2 separate regions of the Homo sapiens genome follow, and region 1 is linked to region 2. A link means that fine-mapping ties the variant in region 2 to the expression of a gene that starts in the linked region. Tissue or cell type: T cells. Region 2 holds a variant in brackets; the other region holds the start of a gene. All regions are shown on one strand. Distances are between the middles of the regions.

Region 1 (10,515 bases), 38 kb after region 2:
CCTCACAGACACACCCAGGATTTTTCAATCCAATCATCTTGACACTCAGTATTCACCATCACAGATGGAGTCTTGCTATGTTGCCCAGGCTGGTCTCAAATTCCTGTCCTTAAGCAATCCTCCCCCCGTCACGCTCCCAAAGTGCTGGGATTACAGGCCTGAGCCACTGTACCTGGCTTGTTTTAATCTTTTATACTGCATTTTTACTGTACTTATTATTATTATTATTATTATTTTTGAGACAGAGTCTTGCTCTGTCCCCCAGGCTGGAGTGCAATGGCGTGATCTCGGCTCACTGCAGCCTCTGCCTCCCAGGTTCAAGCGATTGTCCTGCCTCAGCCTCCCAAGTAGCTAGGATTATAGGTCCCCGCCACCATGCCCAGCTAATTTTTGTACTTTTAGTAGTTTTACCATGTTGGTCAGGCTGGTCTCGAACTCCTGAACTCAGATGATCCACCCACCTCGGCTTCTCAAAGTTCTAGGATTACAGGTGTGAGCCACAGCACCTGGCCTTACAGTACATTTTCTATGTTTAGATATACAAATACCTACCATTGTGTTACAGTTGCCTACAGTATTCTGTAGAGTCACATGCTGTACAGGTTTGTACCCTAGGAGCAACAGGCTATACCATGTAACCTAGATGTGTAGTAGGCTCTGCCATCTAGGTTTGTGTAAGTTCACTCTGTGATGTTTGCACAATGACGGAATTGCTTAGTGATGCATTTCTCAGAACATATCCCCATCATTAGCCAACACATGACTGTATTTCTTTTCTTCTTCTTTTGCTTGACCAATAAATTAGGACATCTTAAAACTTTTGAGAAATACACAAAAAGCTCAAGCCATCCTCCACATCTTTTATTTTTTTTTTAAGGAAGATAAAACATATTCATTATTCCTTAAGTGGAAGTGAATCCTCATAAAGGTCTTCCTCTCTGTCGTCTTCATGTTGAGTAGACTGGGAAGGAGGAAGAGGGGGCTGGTCTTGCTGTCTCAGGGGTGGCAGAGGCAGGAGAAAGTAGGTGTACCTGTGTGATTCAAATGTGTTGTTCAAGGTCAACTGTATATGGTTGGCTCTCACGATCTAATATTTTACATAGGAATCTTATATCTCTGTCTGTCATAAATAAAATGAACTTAAAATTTCCTTTTCTTTTACTTTTTGTTTTACCAATCAAGGTTATGCTAGCCTCAGAAATGACTAGAGTTGCTTTTATTCTTTTCTATTTTCTGGAACAATTTACTTAGATAAATCATCTGAGGTCAGGAGTTCAAGACCAGACTGGCCAACATGGTGAAATGCTGTCTCTACTAAAGATACAAAAAAAATTAGCCAAGCATGGTGGCACAAGCCTGTAATACCAGTTACTCAGGAGGCTGAGGCAGGAGAATCGCTTGAACCTGAGAGGCGGAGGTGGCAGTAAGCCGAGATGGTACCACTGCACTCCAACCAGGGTGATAGCATGAGACTCCGTCTCAAAAAAAAAAAAAAAAGAAAAAGAAAAGAAAAGAAAAGGAAATGCCCACAGGAGATGGAGTGACAGGGTCGGGGCAGAGAGAAATGGAAACTTACTGGAGGGTTTGCCGGGACTTAAGTTGAGCAATTTGAGTCACTTCACCCAGAGCCAGGCTATGGCTGCTGTGTATTCTCCTCACATCCACTTAATGAGACACTAAGTCCACTAGATTGGAGAAAAATATATGATATTTGTAGAAAAATAATAATTTTTTTTGAGACAGAGTCTCGCTCTGTCACTCAGGCTGGAGTGCAGTGGCACAATCTTGGCTCACTGCAACCTCCACCTCCTGGGTTCAAGTGATTCTTGTGCCTCAGCCTCCCGAGTAGCTGGGATTACAGGTGTGTACCACCACACCCAGCTAATTTTTGTATTTTTAGTAAAGACGAGGTTTTGCCATGTTGGCCAGGCTGGTCTCGAACTCCTGACCTCAAGTGATCTGCCCGCCTTGGCCTCCCAAAGTACTGGGATTACAGGCGTGAGCCACCACACCTGGCCTCTCCATGTCTTTTCATGACTTGATAGCTCATTTCTCTTTAGAACGGCATCATATTCCATTGTTTGGATGTTCCATAGTTTATCCATTTACCTACCAAAGGACATCTTGGTTGTTTCCATATTTTAACAATTACCAATAAAGCTGGTATAAACATCTATGTGCATGTTATGAATTGGTTTTTCGAACCCCCAACATGACATTGTGTGGATAGTCTCAGTCTCTGTTCTCAATCATGTGTGAGTTACAAATAATTTATTGAAATAAGAGCCCCCTCCCCGTGTCTTTGGCTGGTGATGATGGAAGGGTTTGTTTCAGTGTTTTGTTTGGTGTCTCACTTCTCTCCCTCATACATGGGATTTTTCTCAAGAGCAAATAGTGACACTTGGTGTCTAATGAGCAACTTCTGATTGCTCCCAGACTACCATGCTTGTCACCTCACTCTCTCTGGGGCAGCGGGTAGGTCCTAGCTTGGTTTGAACGTTTTAACCTGGCTATGGCTGGCACAGGATCACGGAAATGCGGTTGCTTGTGTTTGTTGTTACAGCAGCATTTGGAAGCACTGGTAGGAGTTAGATGACATTGGCTGGCACAGAAGTGTGGGAACAAAGGTGATCCTGGAGAAAAACCACTCCACTGTCCTCTCAAGGCTGGACCGAGCTCAGTGAATTCAGCTATGTGAGCACCTCACCAGGCACTTGCTTTTTTTTTTTTCTTTTTTTGTGACAGGGTCTCACTCTGTCACCCAGGCTGGAGTGCAATGGTGCAATCACAGCTCACTGCAACCTCTGCCTCCTGGGCTCAGGTGATCCTCCCACCTCAGTCTCCAAAATAACTGGGACCACAGGTGCGAGCCACCATGCCCAGCTATTTTTAAATTTTTTTTTTTTTTTTTTTTTTTTTGCAGAGATGGGGTTTCATGTTGCCCAGGCTGGTCTCTTAACTCCTGAGCTCAAGCAATCCGTCCGCCTGAGCCACCCAAAGTGCTGGGATTACAGGTGCGAACCACTGCACTGGCCAGGATCATTTTCAATAATTGCCCTGCTAATGTCTCATTCTACTCACGGAAGGTCCTTCTCTGACCTTTCCTTCCCAAACAGCTCAATTGTTCTAGGTGAGTCTGAATCACAGCCTGATCAGCGGCTAAATTAGGATTCCACTCAGCACCCTGGGGTTAGGGTGGCCCTATAATGAGTCTCCTAGGGAGCTAGCTATCTGCGTCCGTGTCAAGCAGAAGGGAAAAACAAAAACAAACCAACAAAACCAACAAAAACCCCAGCAAACTCTGCTCCTAATTGGCTTTCTTCTTTGATCTCTGACCTGGTTCCTTGACTACTCTAATCTCAACTCCCTTTACTTCTTCCCATAAAGCAAGTGGGGTTGACTAGGTAGTCTTGAAGTTTCCTTCTATCTTTCATAGTTTCTAGGACCACGACCTAGGAGAAATCATCAATCTGCGCTAGCCTTGGTGTTATTGTAGCTGTAAAAGAATCATCGTATTAGAGGAACATTTACGTTATTGGGAGCGTTTTCTGAAGGGCCGCCTTTGTGATACCCAGGTTAGTAGGAGGGAAGTTGGCCAAGCCCTAGTTGGACATTTGGGGTGAAGATGGGGCATTAGCAGAGCTAGGGAATGAGTTAGGAGGATGTCCAAACTAGTAAACTCGGAACCAGTAAATTACCAGAATACAGTTGCAGTTGGGTTGTTTATAAGTGATTTTGTAGTGAAGCAGTTTCATCTCTCATGAGGGCTCTACCCTAACTTACCTGGGGCTGTAAAGGCTGCCAGGAGTTCTAGCTGGCCATTAAAAAAACAAAAACAGGTGTGCATTCGTCCTTGCTCCCACGCACTCCCAGTTTGCACTTAGATGTAAGGAGCGGGGGGGGGGGGGGGGCGGGGGGTGGTGGTGGGGCGGGGATTGAGTTAACTTCCTTTTGCCTGCTGCAGAGCAAGTGCAGGAGGCGAATGGGGGAAGAACATAGTCTTCCCTCTAGACTCGGAACGCGTTATTGACAGACAGGAAAAGTGCCCGGTCTGCGAAAGTTCAGCTGGACCTCCGGGACATCAACTCCCTGTGCCCTAAGAGCTGACCGCTGTCAGATGCGTTATCTAGGTCAAGAGATGAATGATGTGCCGCTGCTGGGGCAGACGCCGTCTCTCTGCTCTCCCTGTGAGCTGAAACCAGCAGTGTTTGCAAGCTTGTAGGGAGTGTGGAAGAAGGCCCCCTGGTCCGCTTGCCTCGCCTGTACGTGTGCAAAATCGGTGGGCAAGCAGCGGGCGCGCAGGTGCACCGTCATTCCCCAGGAACCGCGGGCGCTCTTTGCAGGGGTGCAGCCGCTCTCCCCGCGCGCAGCCTACAGCCCTCCCCGACCCCCGCGAACCCCAGGGCGGGAACTCGTCCCGGTGGCGCGGGCGCTCGCTGCCTGCTGTTTCCCTCTTCGGGTCAGCCCACTCTTATTTCAGGAGTGGAGTGGGACTCTCCCCTGGGCGTTTAGGGTGTCGCCTCTGGCATGTGCTCCCACTGCAGAAAACAAGTCCAAATGCAACGCATCGGGTTTCTGAACAGCCGCCAGAGCGCGGAAACCAGACCGTCAGCAAAGCTGTCGCGGGAACAGGGGCTCTGAGAGGGCGGCGCGGGGGGCGGGGTGCCGGAGTGGGGGTCGAGGCGGGAGGGGGAGTGGGGGTCGAGGCGTGGGGGAGGGTGGCGGGGCACAGGCCAGGTGGCCGATGTTGCGCGTTCCGGGGCCCCTCGGCAGGCGGCGGGTCGGGAGGAGTGGAGGCCCGGGTGGGGCGGGCGCGCGGGGCGGGAGCAGCCCCGGTCGCCGCCTGGGCGCGGGCGCCCTCCCTGTGGAGCATGCGGGACGTGAGCGACGTGTGGCAGCCTCTGCGCAGACTTTTCCGCCGCGGTGTAGGTTTCAGCGAGCGCCGCCTTCCCTCCAATCACAGCCCAGCCTCAGCGCTAAGTGTGCACCTCTCTGCAAGGCGGCGCAGCGCTCCCGTACTGAGGCTTCGTTTGCAAAAGTTACATCCGTCCCGGCGCGGGCGGCGGTTCCCCACCAAAAGCAACCCAGATCTTCCCCGCACGCCTCTGACCTGACTGCACGACTGTCACAAGTCGCGAGCTGGTGCAAACTGCGAGGGCCGGGAAAGGAGACGGGGCACGCATGCACCAAAAAGTGGGGAGGCAGAGCTGCAGGGTGTGCAGGATAACGGAGTGAATTTTAGGAGTCTGCCTAATAAGGGGCCGCCCCCAATAGTTTTCCCTCGACTTAGGTAATGAATTGCAGATCGAAATGGGTCTAGTTTTATTCATTCTTCTACTCGGGGCGATAAAGGTTTATTGAATGGTGTACATGGTGAGTGTGAAAACCAGATGCCAGCTGCCCCCAGCCCCAGTCCACTTCAGTCCAGCTCCCCGGGGCTTTCCCGCCCCCTCCTCGTACCCAGCACCGCGGGCCTCTCAAGGTTCCCAGTCTTTGGGCTAGGGGAGGGGAGCAAGGCTCAGTTCAAGTCCAGGTTTCTAAGGGATTCAGCAAAGTGGACAAGGACGAGGTGAGGTGGGAGGATCAGGGAAGCCTCCTCCCCGCGGGTCGCCCGGGTCGTGGCGGGGGATGGGCTCACGGGTATTATCAGGGAGCAGCCTGGCCCATGTCCTTACCTGGACTGCGCCTGCCCCACAGCGCGTGTTAGGAATGCAGAGTATTGGGGCTCCATGGCCCTAAAGGAGCTGCATTGGTAGGATGCACTTTAAGCAGCTTCCCAAGGGATTCGGCTGCGGGGTCCACGGTCTACACTGGGCAGGACTGCGTCTCTGCTCTCCTCCCGGCCAGCACAGTTGAGGTGAGGGGCCGGAATTAGTCGGGGAAGCTGTGCCAGACGTCCCGAGGGGACAACGGGACGAGGGGATAACAGCAGCCAGGACCCTTCAGCAGGGCTGGGCGCGCTCCAGGCCCGGGGCAGGGCGGCGGGAGCTGGTGCACCGCCGTCGCCGGCCCGCAGGGGGAGCTCGCAGGCTGCTTCCCGGCTCGCCCACCCTCCTCCCCACGTGGAAGGGGGCTGGGACCCAAGGAATGCGGCCCGCCCCGAGGCTGACGTACGCGTCTGCGGCCAGCCCGGACTCTTTAAAAGCCGGCGGTGCGCGGGGCATCCCAGCCAAGCCGGAGAGGAGGCGAGCAGCAGGGCCTGGTGGCGAGAGCGCGGCTGTCACTGCGCCCGAGCATCCCAGAGCTTTCCGAGCGGACGAGCCGGCCGTGCCGGGCATCCCCAGCCTCGCTACCCTCGCAGCACACGTCGAGCCCCGCACAGGCGAGGGTCCGGAACTTAGCCCAAAGCACGTTTCCCCTGGCAGCGCAGGAAACGCCCGGCCGCGCGCCGGCGCACGCCCCCCTCTCCTCCTTTGTTCCGGGGGTCGGCGGCCGCTCTCCTGCCAGCGTCGGGATCTCGGCCCCGGGAGGCGGGCCGTCGGGCGCAGCCGCGAAGATGCCGTTGGAACTGACGCAGAGCCGAGTGCAGAAGATCTGGGTGCCCGTGGACCACAGGCCCTCGTTGCCCAGATGTGAGTGCAGCTGCGCGGAGCCGGGTTGCAGGGCGGGCTGCGCCGGGCCGGGCCATTGTGTGGGGCGGCTTTGTGCCGACGCCCCTCTGCGGGGGGCGCGCCCGTGCGGGTCGCGCCGGCGGGGCGGGGCGGAGGCGCGGGCTGCGCGTCCTTGGCCGGGCGGCGGGGGCGCTGTGGCCCTTGTCCCGGTGGCTGCCCCGCCGGCCCGGAAACGGCGAGTGCGCCCGGCCGGGCTGCGTACCCCGAGACGGAGGGACGCGCGCGCCTGGGCAGGCCAGGGAGGGGATCCACATCCTCCGCGATCCCTGTCCTCGACACCCGTCTCGGGCGGCCGTCGCCGGAGCGCAGCCCAGGGACCCGGCCGCTCGCGCCTCCGCCCCTTTTCACCGTCCGGATCTCCTCTCTCTGCATGTTTCCATCTCCTCTCCCGCCTTGCTATGCATTCCTATCCCCTCGCTTCACTTAATAACCTATTTCTCTGTCCTGTTTTCTCTTTCGATATATATGTCTCTGTTTTTCTCTGTTTCTACCTCCTTCCTCTCCCACTGTTTCTTTCTGCTTTTATCTCTTTCTCTCTCCTTCTCTCTCTTCCGTGCATCTCCAGTGCCATGGGGGCGCCCGTGCTGGGGGCGCCAGGAGAGCCACCTGGAGCCACGCCTGTGTCCCCGGCTTTGGGGAGGGTCGGTGGGTTGGTGAGTGCACGGTTGGCGCTGCTCCACGCGCCCCGGGCGCACGCACCCCCCGGTGCTCGGAATTGGCTGGCAGTACCCTGCCCCGCCCCGCCGGTCGCCGCCCCCGCCACCAGCGATCGCTTGGGAGAGGGTTACCTCGAGCTCCACCTCAGCTGCGGAGCGCCGCCGCGGAAAAGGGCGGGTGGGCAGCGCAGAGGGGCGACGCTGCCTCTCCAGGTAATGCGCCCCGGCTCCCATGGGCTGGACAGGGAGCCGCCTGGTGCGGTTTTGCCCAGGTCAGGTCGTAGCCTGAGTAGTGACCGTGGGATCCAGGTGCAAACTCTCGAGGTGGCTTCGGGTCATCCGAAGGCGCCTGAGCGCAGGCGGCTGGCAGGCAGGGTTGCCCGGCTACTACGTTTCTTAGGACGGCCCCCGCGGGACTTGGCAGCTCTCCTGGAGCCCTGCTCGGTCTGAATCACCGGCCTCGTCCAGACCTGCCCCTCTCCCCACACCCACCCCCATGGTGTGCCCTGGGTGGGGACGTCAGCAGATCCACCCTGGTGGACTTCAGGGTTCTGGGGTAGCCCTCAGGAGAGGTCTTGTTCCCCCTCTTTGTGAGGTAGCCCAGGACTGGGGGATGTGGGTGTGTTGCCCAGCCCAGTCAGATGCGCTTGAACTGGGGTGGCCCATGGTTCTCTTGTCTTTGTGTAAAACCTGTAAGTGGAGTGGAATGCAGCTCTTAAATCCCCAGGGAGGTTTGGCCAAGGCCAAATGCAGAAACAACTTTTGCATAAAGCAAGTATTATCTCTATAGCACTTTGTAAACTGCATTGGAGGCTAGTCCCACATATGTAAATACATGTGATTGTATACGAATGCCCACGGGTCTGAGAGGAGTGTCCCGTGACTTCCAGGGCTCTGAGATCTGTTGGCATCAGCTCAGTTGTGATCTTGAGAACTCCAGCGTGCACCAAGGCGTCCTCCCTCCAGGCTTGGATCCTGATCCATTAGACCCCATCAACCTGCACGTCTCACACGCAGTGAGAGATTTGCCTAAGAATCCCTGTCAGAATCATTCAGAGCTGGAGGGTGGGAATTTGGCTAAAGCCAATGGATTAATTCTTTTGTCCCGCCTACTGCTGGTATCCTCCTGTGTGGCTTTGAGGTATAGTCTCAGACACATTCCTTCTTGTAAAAAGATCCGCAGCCTGGGTATCGCACATCCTTATTTCAAGTGGTGGTGTCTTTCTCAGTTTATATAGTCACATTTAACTCTTACTGGAATGGAGGGAAGAAGGTGTTTCTATTTGGTATCTTTCCTGACACCCTCCCTCGATTCTCTAATGGCATTTGGGACATTGGGTGGGTTTTTCTTTCTTCCTTTTTTTTTTTTTTTTTTTTTTGACATGGCGTTTCACTCTGTCACCGAGGCTGGAGTGCAGTGGTGCGATCTCGGCTCACTGCAACTTCTGCCTCCGGGTTTCAAGCGATTCTCGTGCCTCAGTCTCCCGAGAAGCTGGGATTACAGGCGCACGCCGCCATGCCCAGCTAATTTTCATATTTTTAGTAAAGACGGGGTTTCACCATGTTGGCCAGGCTGGTCTTGAACTCCTGACCTCAAGTGATCCGCCCACCTCAGCCTCCCAAAGTGCTGGGATTATAGGCATGAGCCACCACGCCCAGCTGGGTGGGTTTTCTTTCTCCTAAACTTGTTGCCACCTTTATAAGTGGCCTTCTCATTGGAGGTCTGCAGCAGAGTTCCCTGAGGTTTATTATTTATTTATTTATTTATTTATTTATTCATTTTTGAGGTGGAGTCTCACACTGTCACCCAGGCTGGAGGGCAGTGGTGCGACCATAGCTCACTGTAACCACCAACTCTTGGGCTCAAGTGATGCTCCCGCCTCAGCCTGTCCAGTAGCCGGGACTATAAGTGTGCACCACCACACCCGGCTAATTAAAAAAAATTTTTTTTTTTTTTTAATTGATCATTCTTGGGTGTTTCTCGCAGAGGGGGATTTGGCAGGGTCATAGGACAATAGTGGAGGGAAGGTCAGCAGATAAACAAGTGAACAAAGGTCTCTGGTTTTCCTAGGCAGAGTGTTTGTGTCCCTGGGTACTTGAGATTAGGGAGTGGTGATGACTCTCAACGAGCATGCTGCCTTCAAGCATCTGTTCAACAAAGCACATCTTGCACCGCCCTTAATCCATCCAACCCTGAGTGGACACAGCACATGTTTCAGAGAGCACAGGGTTGGGGGTAAGGTCATAGATCAACAGGATCCCAAGGCATAAGAATTTTTCTTAGTACAGAACAAAATGAAAAGTCTCCCATGTCTACTTCTTTCTACACAGACACAGCAACCATCCGATTTCTCAATCTTTCCCCGCCCCTTTCCCCCCTTTCTATTCCACAAAACCGCCATTGTCGTCATGGCCCGTTCTCAATGAGCTGTTGGGTACACCTCCCAGACGGGGTGGTGGCCGGGCAGAGGGGCTCCTCACTTCCCAGTAGGGGCGGCCGGGCAGAGGCGCCCCTCACCTCCCGGACGGGGCGGCTGGCCGGGCAGGGGCTGACCCCCCCACCTCCCTCCCGGACGGGGTGGCTGCCGGGCGGAGACGCTCCTCACATCCCAGATGGGGCGGCGGGGCAGAGACGCTCCCCACATCTCAGACGATGGGCGGCCGGGCAGAGATGCTCCTCACTGCCTAGATGGGATGGCGGCCAGGAAGAGGCGCTCCTCACTTTCCAGACTGGGCAGCCAGGCAGAGGGGGTCCTCACATCCCAGACGATGGGCGGCCGGGCAGAGACGCTCCTCACTTCCCAGACGGGGTGGCGGCCGGGCAGAGACGCTCCTCACTTTCCAGACTGGGCAGCCAGGCAGAGGGGCTCCTCACATCCCAGACGATGGGCGGCCAGGCAGAGACACTCCTCACTTTCCAGACTGGGCAGCCAGGCAGAGGGGCTCCTCACATCCCAGACGATGGGTGGCCAGGCAGAGACGCTCCTCACTTCCCAGATGGGGTGGCGGCCGGGCAGAGGCTGCAATCTCGGCACTTTGGGAGGCCAAGGCAGGCGGCTGGGAGGTGGAAGTTGTAGCGAGCCGAGATCACGCCACTGCACCCCAGCCTGGGCACCATTGAGCACTGAGTGAACGAGACTCCGTCTGCAATCCCGGCACCTCGGGAGGCCGAGGCTGGCGGATCACTCGCGGTTAGGAGCTGGAGACCAGCCCGGCCAACACAGCGAAACCCCGTCTCCACCAAAAAA
Region 2 (10,515 bases):
GGCAGTGTGTAACAAAAGGAAATAAAGAAACTTCACCTCTTTAGTGATCAGGAAAATGCAGATTGAGACCAAAATGAAGACACGTTTCACTCTGTGTGCCCGGTAGAAATGAGGAAGCCTGATGGCTTTCAGTGTTGACAGAATGTGGACCACAAAAGCCCCTCACACATTGCTGGTGGGCCGATAAGTGGTACAAATGCCTTGGAGGCAGTTTGGTCTTTTCTTTGGTGTAAAGTTGAAATTCACATACTTCGGCTAGGTGCGGTAGCTCACGCCTGTAATCCTAGCACTTTGGGAGGCCTAGGCAGGCGGATCACCTGAGGTCAGGAGTTCAAGACCAGCCTGGTCGACATGGTGAAACCCCATCTCTACTAAAAATACAAAAAGTCAGCCAGGCATGATGGCATACACCTGTAGTCCCAGCTACTCCAGAGACTGAGGCAAGAGAATCGCTTGAACCTAAGAGGCGGAGGCTGCAGTGAGCTGAAATCGCAGCGCCACTGCTCTCTAGCCTGGGTGACAAAGCAAGACTCCATCTCAAAAAAAAAAAAAGAAATTCACCTACTCGAAACCAGCAATACCGTTCCTAGTATTGCTGATGTTCACACAATCATGTTCATAGCAGCACTCTCATAGAAAAACCTTTACACAGCACAAATGCACTTTGACAGGAGGATAAATTATTCTTAGTATATTCACACAAGGCAATATTATAAATAAGCTACACTCAAATAGACAGCAACTCTCAATATTGTTGATGACTATTAAAAAATCCCAAAACAGGCCAGGCGCTGTGGCTCTCACTTGTAATCCCAGCACTTTGAGAGACGGAGGTAGGCAGATCCCTTGAGGTCAGGAGTTCGAGATCAGCCTGCCCAACATGGTGAAACCCTGTTTCTACTAGAAATACAAAAATTAGCCAGGCGTGGCGGTGGGCACCTGTAATCCCAGCTACTTGGGAGGCTGAGAAGGGAGAATCGCTTGAACAAGGGAGGTGGAGGTTGCAGTGAGAGGAGATCGCGCCACTGCACTCCAACCTGGGTAACAGAGCGAGACTCTGTCTTAATTAAAAAAAACAAAAAAAAGCACCAGGCATGGTGGCTCACACCTGTAATCCCAGCACTTTGGGAGGCTGAGGCGGGGGGATCACCTGAGATGGGGAGTTTGAGACCAGCTGTCAAGAAACCCGTCTCTACTAAAAATACAAAAAAATTAGCTGGGTGTGGTGGTGCATGCCTGTAATCCCAGTTACCCGGGAGGCTGAGACAGGAGAATCGCTTGAACCCGGGAGGAGGAGGTTGCGGTGAGCCGAGATTACACCATTGCACTCCAGCCTGGGCAACAAGAGTGAAACTCCGTCTGAGGAAAAAAAAAAAAAACAAAACACCAAAAAACCAAAAACCAAAAACATCAAAATCATTACATATGGTAAGGTACTTTTTATTTATTTACTTATTGAAACAGGGTCTCGGATTGTCACCTAGGCTGGAGTGCAGTGACTCACTGCAGCTTTGACCTGCCAGGCTCAAGCAATCCCCCCACCTCAGCCTCCCCAGTTGCTATGACTTTAGGTGTGTGCCACCATGCCTGGCTATTGTTTTTTTTTTTAATAGAGACGAGGTCTTGCCATCTTGCCCAGGCTGGTCTTGAACTCCTAGACTCAAGCAATCCTCCCGCCTGAGCCTCTCAAAGTGCTGAGATTACAGGCATGAGCTACCATGCCCGGCCTACGATACTTTTTAAAATAAAATTAAAACAACTAAAACTAAACAATGCTTTTTAGGAATATATACATAATAAAACTATGTATTTTTACAAGATTCAGGATAATGGTTACTTCCATTTGAAGGGAGGCAGAAGCAGAGGATGGGGGAATATACAAATACATGTCACTTAATGTCAATAATTGAGATGTCAATTGGCTGATGGGGTCATAGTTGTCTGTTATATTAAACAAACAAATACAAAAGAGGGCCATTCAGGGATCAGTGATGAGAGCCTGAGATGAGGCGAGGACTGTGATTGCTCCCACCCTCTCTACCTGAGGTCCAGAAAGCAAGAAAGAATGAAGAGTTCCCTTTTGACCTGTTACAAGATCAGCAGTTTCCTGGGTGCGGTGGCTCACGCCTGTAATCCCAGCACTTTGGGAGGCTGAGGCAGGCAGATGACCTGAAGTCAGGAGTTCGAGACCAGCCTGGCAAACACAGTGAAACACTGTATACTAAAAATACAAAAAAATTAGCTGGGCATGGTGGCACGCACCTGTAATCCCAGCTACTCAGGAGGCTGAGGCAGGAGAATTGCTTGAACCCGGGAGGTGGAGGCTGCAGTGAGCTGAGATCTCGCCATTGCATTCCAGCCTGGGCGACAAGAGCAAGACTCTGTCTCAAAAAAAAAAAAAAAAAAAAAGAGGATGAAGCAAATATGGTAAATATGGTAAAATGTTAATAACTAGTGAAGATATATGGAGATTCTTTGTACTACTTAAAAATTTTCTAAATTTGAAATTACGTCAAAATGAGAAGTTAAAAGAGAAATGACAGGTCACTTCTCCAGTCATCTCCCAACCTTGATGCATTTGGCCTTTTTTTAAATTTTTTTAATTTATTTTTTTATTTTTTTGAGATAGAGTTTCACTCTTGAAGCCCAGGCTGGAGTGGAATGGTGTGATCTTGGCTCACTGCAACCTCCGCTTCTCGGGTTCAAGCAATTCTCCTGCCTCAGACTCCCGAGTAGCTGGGACTACAGGTGCCTGCCACCATGCCCAGCTACTTTTTGTATTTTTAGTAGAGACGGGGTTTCACCATGTTGGGCAGGCTGGTCTTGAACTCCTGACCTCAGATGGTTCACCTGCCTTGTCCTCCCAAAGTGCTGGAATTACAGGTGTGAGCCACGGCGCCTGACCTCATTTGGCCTCTTCTTTCTGTTGCTCAAACACTCAAGACTTACGACTCAGGGCCTCTGCAAGTTCCCCCTGCCTGGAGCAGTGATAGGGTGACTCTTTACCAGCAATATGAGGATCCCATTTGTTTGGATCATTTGTAAAGGTAACTTTTCCCATTTGTAACTAAAAAGTTATCTGTGGAGGGATCCTTTGCAGTCACTCACAAAGTGTGAATAAAATATCCTGTTCCCAATAATCTTTATAAAAAATTTAAAAAATTATTTTATTTCATTTTGTCATGTCCTTGAGTCATAGATATATACACACATATGTATATATATACACACATATGTATATATATACACACACACATATATATATACACACACACATATATATACACACACACACATATATATATATAGAGAGAGAGAGAGAGAGAGAATCTCACTTTGTCACCCAGGCTGGAGTGCAGTGGTGCCATCAGGACTTGCTGTTGTCTAGAATTCCTGGGCTCAAGCGATCCTCCCACCTCAGCCTCCCGAGTGGGTGGGATTACAGGAGGGTGCCACCATGCCTGGCTAATTTTTTAATTTTTAATTTTGTAGAAACAGGGTTTCACTATGTTGCCCAGGGTGGCCTTTAATTTCTAATGTAAACATTTTTAATTGTGGTAAATACACTTATAATTTACCATCTTCAACATTTTTAAGTATACAGCTCAGTGGTGTTAAATATATTCAGTGTTGTACAACCATCACCACCAACCATCTCTAGAACTTTTTCATCCTGCAAGACTGAAACTCTGCACCCATTAAACAATAACTCTCATTCTTCACAATCCCCAGCTCCTGGCAGCCACCATTCTTTCTGTCTCTGAATCTGACTATTCTAGGGAACTCATGTGAGTGGAATCTTACAACATTTGTCTGTTTGTGCCTGGCCTATTTCACTTAGCATCAAGTGCTCACGGCTCATCCACGTTGTAGCATGGGTCAGAATTTCCATCTTTTTGGAGGCGGAGTAATGTTCTGTGTGTTTAGTCACATTTTGTGTATCCATTCATCTGTTGTTGGACACATGGATTACTCTACCTTCTGGCTGTTGTCAATAATGCTGCTGCGAACATGGGTCTACAAACATCTCTTTGAAACCTTGCTTTCAATTCTTTGGGGTGTGTATATACAAGGAATAATCTTTTATTTCATAGCTTTAGCATCTATTGATGATTCTTGAGTGAAACACTTATCAGAGTGTCCGTAAAATGGCTATTTACCATTTTTGTCATTCTTTCCACATTTATTAGTTGGCATTCTTTTGTAAAGAAGCTCTTTCCTGCCCATCCTCCCTTTTACTAGCTTTAATTTCATCATCATTATTAATAGTAGTAATAGTACCAATGTGGACTCCGGGATTTTTAAAATTATGACTGCATGTGTTAGAATCCATTCCTGACATACTCAATTGATGCTCAAGCCACTCCCAGTTTGGGTGAGAACCCTTTCAGGCTGGCTGCTGTGTCCTTGACACGCCCCCTTCAGCTTTTGAGCTCTGTCTTAACTCCTGTTCCAGGCTCCTTGTGTCCTTCCCAGTCTCGGCCTTGGGAGCAGCCACTCCTCCAAGGATCCCTGGGTACTTTCAGTGGAGGATGGTCCTTAGAAGGCTGGATCTGGGCTTTTGTGTGCCTCTTCTTGCTACCGGAGTGTCCGTGTTTCCAGGGCGTTTTTCATGGATGGAGCTGGGAAACATTTTAAAATTGTAAATTCAAACGGATCAGTTATTCCAGTCCAGCAGCACAGAGTTCTTCCTCTCCTTCCCCCGTCCCATAATTGTATCTTTCATTTGCTTTCTGTGTTTTCCCCAGGAATGTTGTCTTCATCTTGAATCTCCTTTGCTACTGGCTGTACTCATTAGCAACATAAAATTCCTCGTGATAACCTCTGACCCCTATCCCATGTGTGATGACACCGAGTTGAGGGAGATCAGACATTCAATGCAGAGGTGGGGGCCAAGACCAAGCCTCCTGGGGCTTAAGAAAATATCTCCAGAGACGGGAAGTCTGGAAGGGAACTCCATCACGAATATTTTATGTTCCCTCCCTCTATTGTTCTCAATCACTGCACAAGTGTATATTACTTTTTTTAATAACAAAAAGGAACTTTTAAGGTAACCCCCCACAACCCTATATAGACTGGATGTCAACTCTTTAGTCCTAGATACACCTGGAGCCTGGCGTCGTGGGGACAGAGGCAGGTCCCTGTGCTGAGGGCGGTAAGACAGGGCGGGTAGGTGGGGACCCAGCTGGGAGGTAGGGGGGCCAGACGGGACATCAGCTCCCGGGAGCCCCGCTCTGGGCACGGTGCGCGCCTCCACCCTCCATTGCACCCCGCGCCTGCTTCCTCCCAGGTGCACCTCGGGCGCCTAAGCCAGCTGGGTCCCGGGCCCCGGGAGCAGCTGCGGGCCCGACGGGGGCGTGGCGGGACCGGCGGGGGCGGGGCCTGGGGGTGGTCCGCGCGGATTGGCTGCTGCCTGCGGCGCACGAGCCGGTCAGCGCGCACCCCGCCCTTCCCGGGCCGTGCGGCACGCCGCGTTCACGTGCTGTCGCGCGCCCTCCCGGCGTGCGCCGCGCGGCCCCAGCCTGCTCTGCGGCGACTGTCCGGCTCGTGAGCTCCGCGTGGATCCGGCGCTGGGCCCCCTACGCTCTGGGGACCTGGGGTTGTGTTTCCGGCAAAGGATGTTTTCCG[A/T]GAAGGCCTGGGAGCGGCTGTAAATAATACCCGAGAGGAAATAGGCCCGGCAGGTGTTTTTGCGCGTCCCGGCGTTGGGTGTGGCTGCGGCGGGCGTGCAGGCCGCAGATGAGGAAACAGACTAGGAGGGATTTAGGCATCTGGACTCTGCGGGGCGGCCCGGGCGCGCAGCCCGTTTCCCTGTGGGTTGAGGGCGCGGGAGAAGTGGGCGGCCCACCCCACCCCGCGCGTGGATGCGGGGCTGGGGCAGGTCCGCGGTGGAGGCGCCGCCAGTGAGCACCCGGGGACCGCTCCTAGCCCCCAGTGTGGGACACAGACTCCCTGAGGACCTCGTATGCGTTGGGTCTGTGGCTCCATCCGAATCTTCATGAACAGGGCCTGCGGTGAATTTGGGGAGAGTGAGTGAGCGGGTGAAGGGTCAGGAAATAAGTCACAGGAGGCATGGTTGAAGAATTGGGGATGTTTAACCCAGACATGGCAGGACTGGGCACACTTGACCCCTGTCTGGAAGTATTTGAAAGACTTCTGAAGGGGGCCAGCCCCTCCACACCTGTGGGTGTTTCTCGTCAGGTGGGAGGAGATACTGAGAAAAGAAATAAGACACAAAGTATAAAGAACAGTGGGCCCAGGGGACTGGCACTCAGCATACGAAGGACCCGCACTGGTGGCCGTCTCTGAGTTCCCTCAGTATTGATCATTATTTTTACTATCTTGGCGAGGGGAGTGTAGCAGGGCAACAGGTGGGGAGAAGGTCAGCAGGGAAACATGTGAGCAAAGGAATCTGTATCATGAATAAGTTCAAGGAAAGGTACTGTGCCCTGATGTGCACATAGGCTAAGTTTATGTTTCCCTTTACTCAGACATCTCAGTGTAGCAAAGAGTAACAGAGCAGTATTGCTGCCAGCATATCGCCTACAGCCACAGGGCGGTTTTCTCCTATCTCAGAATAGAACGAATGGGATTGGTCTGCTTTACACCGAGACATTCCATTCCCAGGGATGAGCAGGAGACAGAAGGCTTCCTCTTATCTCAACTGCAAAGAGGCCCCCTCTCTTTCACTACTTCTCAGTACAGACCCTTTACGGGTGTCTGGCTGGGGCACGGTCAGGTCTTTCCCTTCCCAGGAGGCCATATCTCAGGCTGTCTCAGTGGGGGGAAACCTTGGACAATACCCAGGCTTTCTTGGGCAGAGGTCCCTGCAGCCTTCTGCAGTGCATGGTGTCCCTGGTTAATCGAGAATGGAGAATGGCGATGACTTTTACCAAGCATACTGCCTGCAAACATATTGTTAACAAGGCACATCCTGCACGGCCCTGAATCCATTAAACCTTGATTCAATACAGCACATGTTTCTGTGAGCATAGGGTTGGGGCTACAGTTACAGGTTAACAGCATCTCAAAGCAGAAACAATTTTTCTTAGTATAGATCAAAATGGAGTTTCTTGCGTCTTCCTTTTCTGCATAGACACAGTAACAATCTGATCTCTCTTTTCCCCACAACTTCCTTATGAGGAAGAGGCTAGACTTTCCTTCTCCCTGGGGGCACAAAACAGATTTTCCCAGGTGGAGAATTTCAGGTCAGTTACACAGAGCCGGCAGGGATGAACATGTCTGGCGTTCTTTGCAGGAGCCAGATGTTTACCTATGTTAGTGGGAGAATAGTGGAGCTCAGATGCAAGTTCTCATCTGCCAGACTCCAAAGCCCTTGCCTTTTCTCGATGCGTCTATTTTTTTGTAAATGTTTTAGTTCAGAGGTACATGTGCAGGTTTGTTATATAAGTAAACTCGTTTGTTGTAGATTATTTCATCACCTAGGTATAAGCCTAGTACCCAGTATTTTATTTTCTTTTTTCTTTGTCTTTGTTTTTTTTTTTGAGACAGAACCTCACTCTGTCGCCCAGACTGAAGTGCAGTGGTGCTATCTCCGCTCACTGCAACCTCTGCCTCCCGGGTTCAAGCGATTCTCTTCCCTCAGCCTCGTGAGTAGCTGGGATTACAGGCGTGGATCACCAGGCTCAACTTTTTTTTTTTTTTTTTTTGAGACGAAGTCTCACTCTGTCATCCAGGCTGGAGTGCAGTGGCACGATCCCGGCTCACTGCAACTTCCGCCTCCTGGGTTCAAGCGATTCTCCTGCTTCAGCCTCCCCAGTAGCTGGGATTACAGGTGCCCCGCCACCACGCCCAGCTAATTTTTGTGATTTTTAGTAGAGATAGGCTTTCTCCATGTTGGCCAGGCTGGCCTCGAACACCTGAGCTCAGGTGATCCGCCCGCCTCGGTCTCCCAGAGTGCTGGGATTAAGGTGTGAGCTACCGTGGTAGAGATGGGGTTTCGTCATTTTGGCCAGGTTGGTCTCAAACTACTGACCTCAAGTGATCCACCCGCCTTAGGCTCCCAAAGTGCTGGGATTACAGACATGAGCCACCGCCCGGCTTAGTATTTTTTTTTTTCTGAGCCTCTTCCTCCTTCCACTCAATGCATCTATTTTAGTGGAATGGGTTCCTTTGTGAACAATGATGTTGCAGTTATTCATGAAGTAATAAAGTGTTTGTGTATTGATTGATTTCTTTGGACTGGAGGGTTTGCCCAGCCCTGTTGAGCTTTGTCATTGTCTACCTCAGGGGAAGAGGGAGATTGTCGCTGGTCAGAGGAGAATGCCAGGGCTTCTCTCAGACGGAGGCAGCCTCCCATCTCACCGCAAGTCGGATCTTGAGTAGCACCTGTTTCGGCCCATTGCCCCTTTAACAAGGGGCCCAGGTGCCCTTGGACTTGCTAGAAGAATAATCATGACTTTGAGTTTAACAAATGTGGTCACAGTATTCCACTGCAGTCCACCTTTCCCACTTCTCCTAGCCCTTCTTCTTCTTTTTTTTTTTTTTTTTTTTTATTTGAGACAGAGTTTGGCTCTTGTTGCCTAGGCTAGAGTGCAATGGTGCGATCTCAGCTCACCGAAACCTCTGCCTCCCAGTTTAAAGCAATTCTCCTGTCTCAGCCTCCCGAGTAGCTGGGATTACAGGCATGCACCACCATGCCCTGCTAATTTTGTATTTTCAGTGGAGATGGAGTTTCTCCATGTTGGTCAGGAACTCCCCATCTCAGGTGATGGGCCCGCCTCGGCCTCCCAAAGTGCTGGGATTACAGGCGTGAGCCACCTTGCCTGGCCTCCTAGCCTTTCTTTTTTGCAAATCTGACACTCCTCCCCTCCACCCCATGTGCCTAGACAAGGCCAGCATGGGACTCACACAGGAAGAGCTGAGGACTGGAGGAGTGAGTAACTTTTACCTGAGTACGTTTCAGCCCTCCAGGTGGTACCAGGTACAGTCCTCTGAGAAGTCGGGAGGAAAACGCCTGTGCGGGTCTCATTCAGCTCTGCGGTCCTCAGTGTCTGTCTGATACTGAGTCTGTAGTGAGGATGCATAACGGGGTAACCCTTTCTGAGCTCCTGGATTCATTTGCTGAATTAATAGCTTCATACTCTCTGAAGAGAGGAATACTTTAGGAGTCTCTTTTTTGTTTCTGCCACATTTATTAAATTGTCACATTTTAACACATTTTAAGCCATTTTAACATCTCTTGAGAGAAGGTAGGGGCTGTGGAATGTGTATAAAGAGACAATATCTTGTTTTTCTTGGATCCCTAGCTAGCAGATGTGATTACAGTTTCTTATCAAGAACTCAGCCAGAAAATACCAGCCAAACCCTCTTCCTCCATTGGATTATCTGAGGCAGCATTCGTATCTGGTGGCCTCTCTGCTCTGAGCAGTTTGTGGAGCTCCAGAAGATGTCTCTGATGATCCTCTTTTCTTCCTTTCAAGGGATTTCCTAGATTATTCATCCTAAACCTTGGTCTCATTCCTCTCCTACGCCCTTAGGTGTTAAGGAATTGGATATCTATGGAGATAGCCAGCCCAGCCCTAAGCGACACTGTAGAGAAGGTTAAATTTTGTTTCTCTTTGCCTGTTTCTGGTCCTTTGTCCCTTGCTAAGTCCCTAGGTCGTTCCTGCTTTTTTCTAGGTCACATCCTCAGCTTCTTCATCTGCGTCATCTCTAAATGACAGATAGTAGCTCAGTTTGCATTTTAACTGATAGCTGAGATCTTTAACTCCAGAGATGCTATCTAACCATTTAGGGACAGGTTAAATCACATTGTCTTCTTTCCCTAGCCTGCCCCACTCTCCAACCCCAGCATTTTCATACAGAGGGGCAGCTTAGGTAGGGGTGACTAGAGGTAGTGGGAGGCTGGTGGAAGATCATGAGGTAGTGAGTCCTGGAATCCTCCACTTTGCTCCCACTTGCTGAGCGAGGGCCCTGGCCACCCACACTGACCATGCTTGTATTCATCAGCTGTCCTAGAATGTCCTGCCTCAGGCTGGAGGCTGAGGATGCCAGTGAGCGAGGCAGAACGGTGGCTTCAGTCAGCCTTCCTGGGTTCTGATGCCACCTCCACCACTGAGTAGCTGTGTGACCTTGGAGAATTTCCCAAACATCTCTGTGCTTCAGTTCCCTGATGTGTCAGCCTTATGCAGTTGTGAGGATTAACACGAGCAGCTAAGCACAAAAGGCTTCTACATGGCCTGGTAGAAAATCAGGATGCCACCCTGCTGGTGGCCACTGGAAACCCTATTACAATCCAGAGTGCTTCCTAAGTGGGCCTTATTATTCCTGTCTTAAAGGAACTTTCTGCCCAGCAATGACAACTTGGCCATTGCTACGACCATTATGCATGAGTTTAACGGACCAGAAAATGGGATGGGGTGGTCTGCACAGCAGCTGCCCACTCGCAGGTGCCGAGTGTATTTGCAGGTCTGTTTGAGCCCTTACATTCAGGCCTGGGGATGGATGTGGGTGAATGTGCGCGACAGGAGCGAGGCAGCCCCAGTGGTCTGACTT

The links. PIP is the estimated chance that this variant, and not a neighbour inherited with it, causes the effect.
Region 1: PFKFB3 starts here. The variant in region 2 is fine-mapped to the expression of PFKFB3 in T cells (TOPMed, PIP above 0.99).

Annotation. Positions count from the first base shown.
Region 1 is chr10:6,196,765-6,207,279 of GRCh38, forward strand. PFKFB3 (6-phosphofructo-2-kinase/fructose-2,6-biphosphatase 3) reads left to right here and starts at 6,168. Exons shown (of 15, transcript NM_004566.4): 1 at 6,168-6,572. The coding sequence starts at 6,497. It overlaps PFKFB3-AS1 (PFKFB3 antisense RNA 1), which reads right to left and starts at 5,993. Exons shown (of 2, transcript XR_007062045.1): 1 at 5,676-5,993; 2 at 841-1,031. RefSeq lists enhancers at 3,804-4,321, 4,322-4,838, 5,393-5,897, 7,637-8,139, silencers at 4,641-4,860, 5,891-6,220, 6,271-6,380, 6,501-7,010, 7,241-7,320 and a cis regulatory region at 5,831-6,362.
Region 2 is chr10:6,158,331-6,168,845 of GRCh38, forward strand. It overlaps a transcript of PFKFB3 not described here. Among named protein-coding and RNA genes, the nearest start is that of MIR3155B, 11 kb to the left of the region's middle. RefSeq lists a silencer at 5,093-5,572 and enhancers at 5,983-6,092, 7,812-8,311. The variant A/T (reference allele first, on the strand shown) is at 5,629.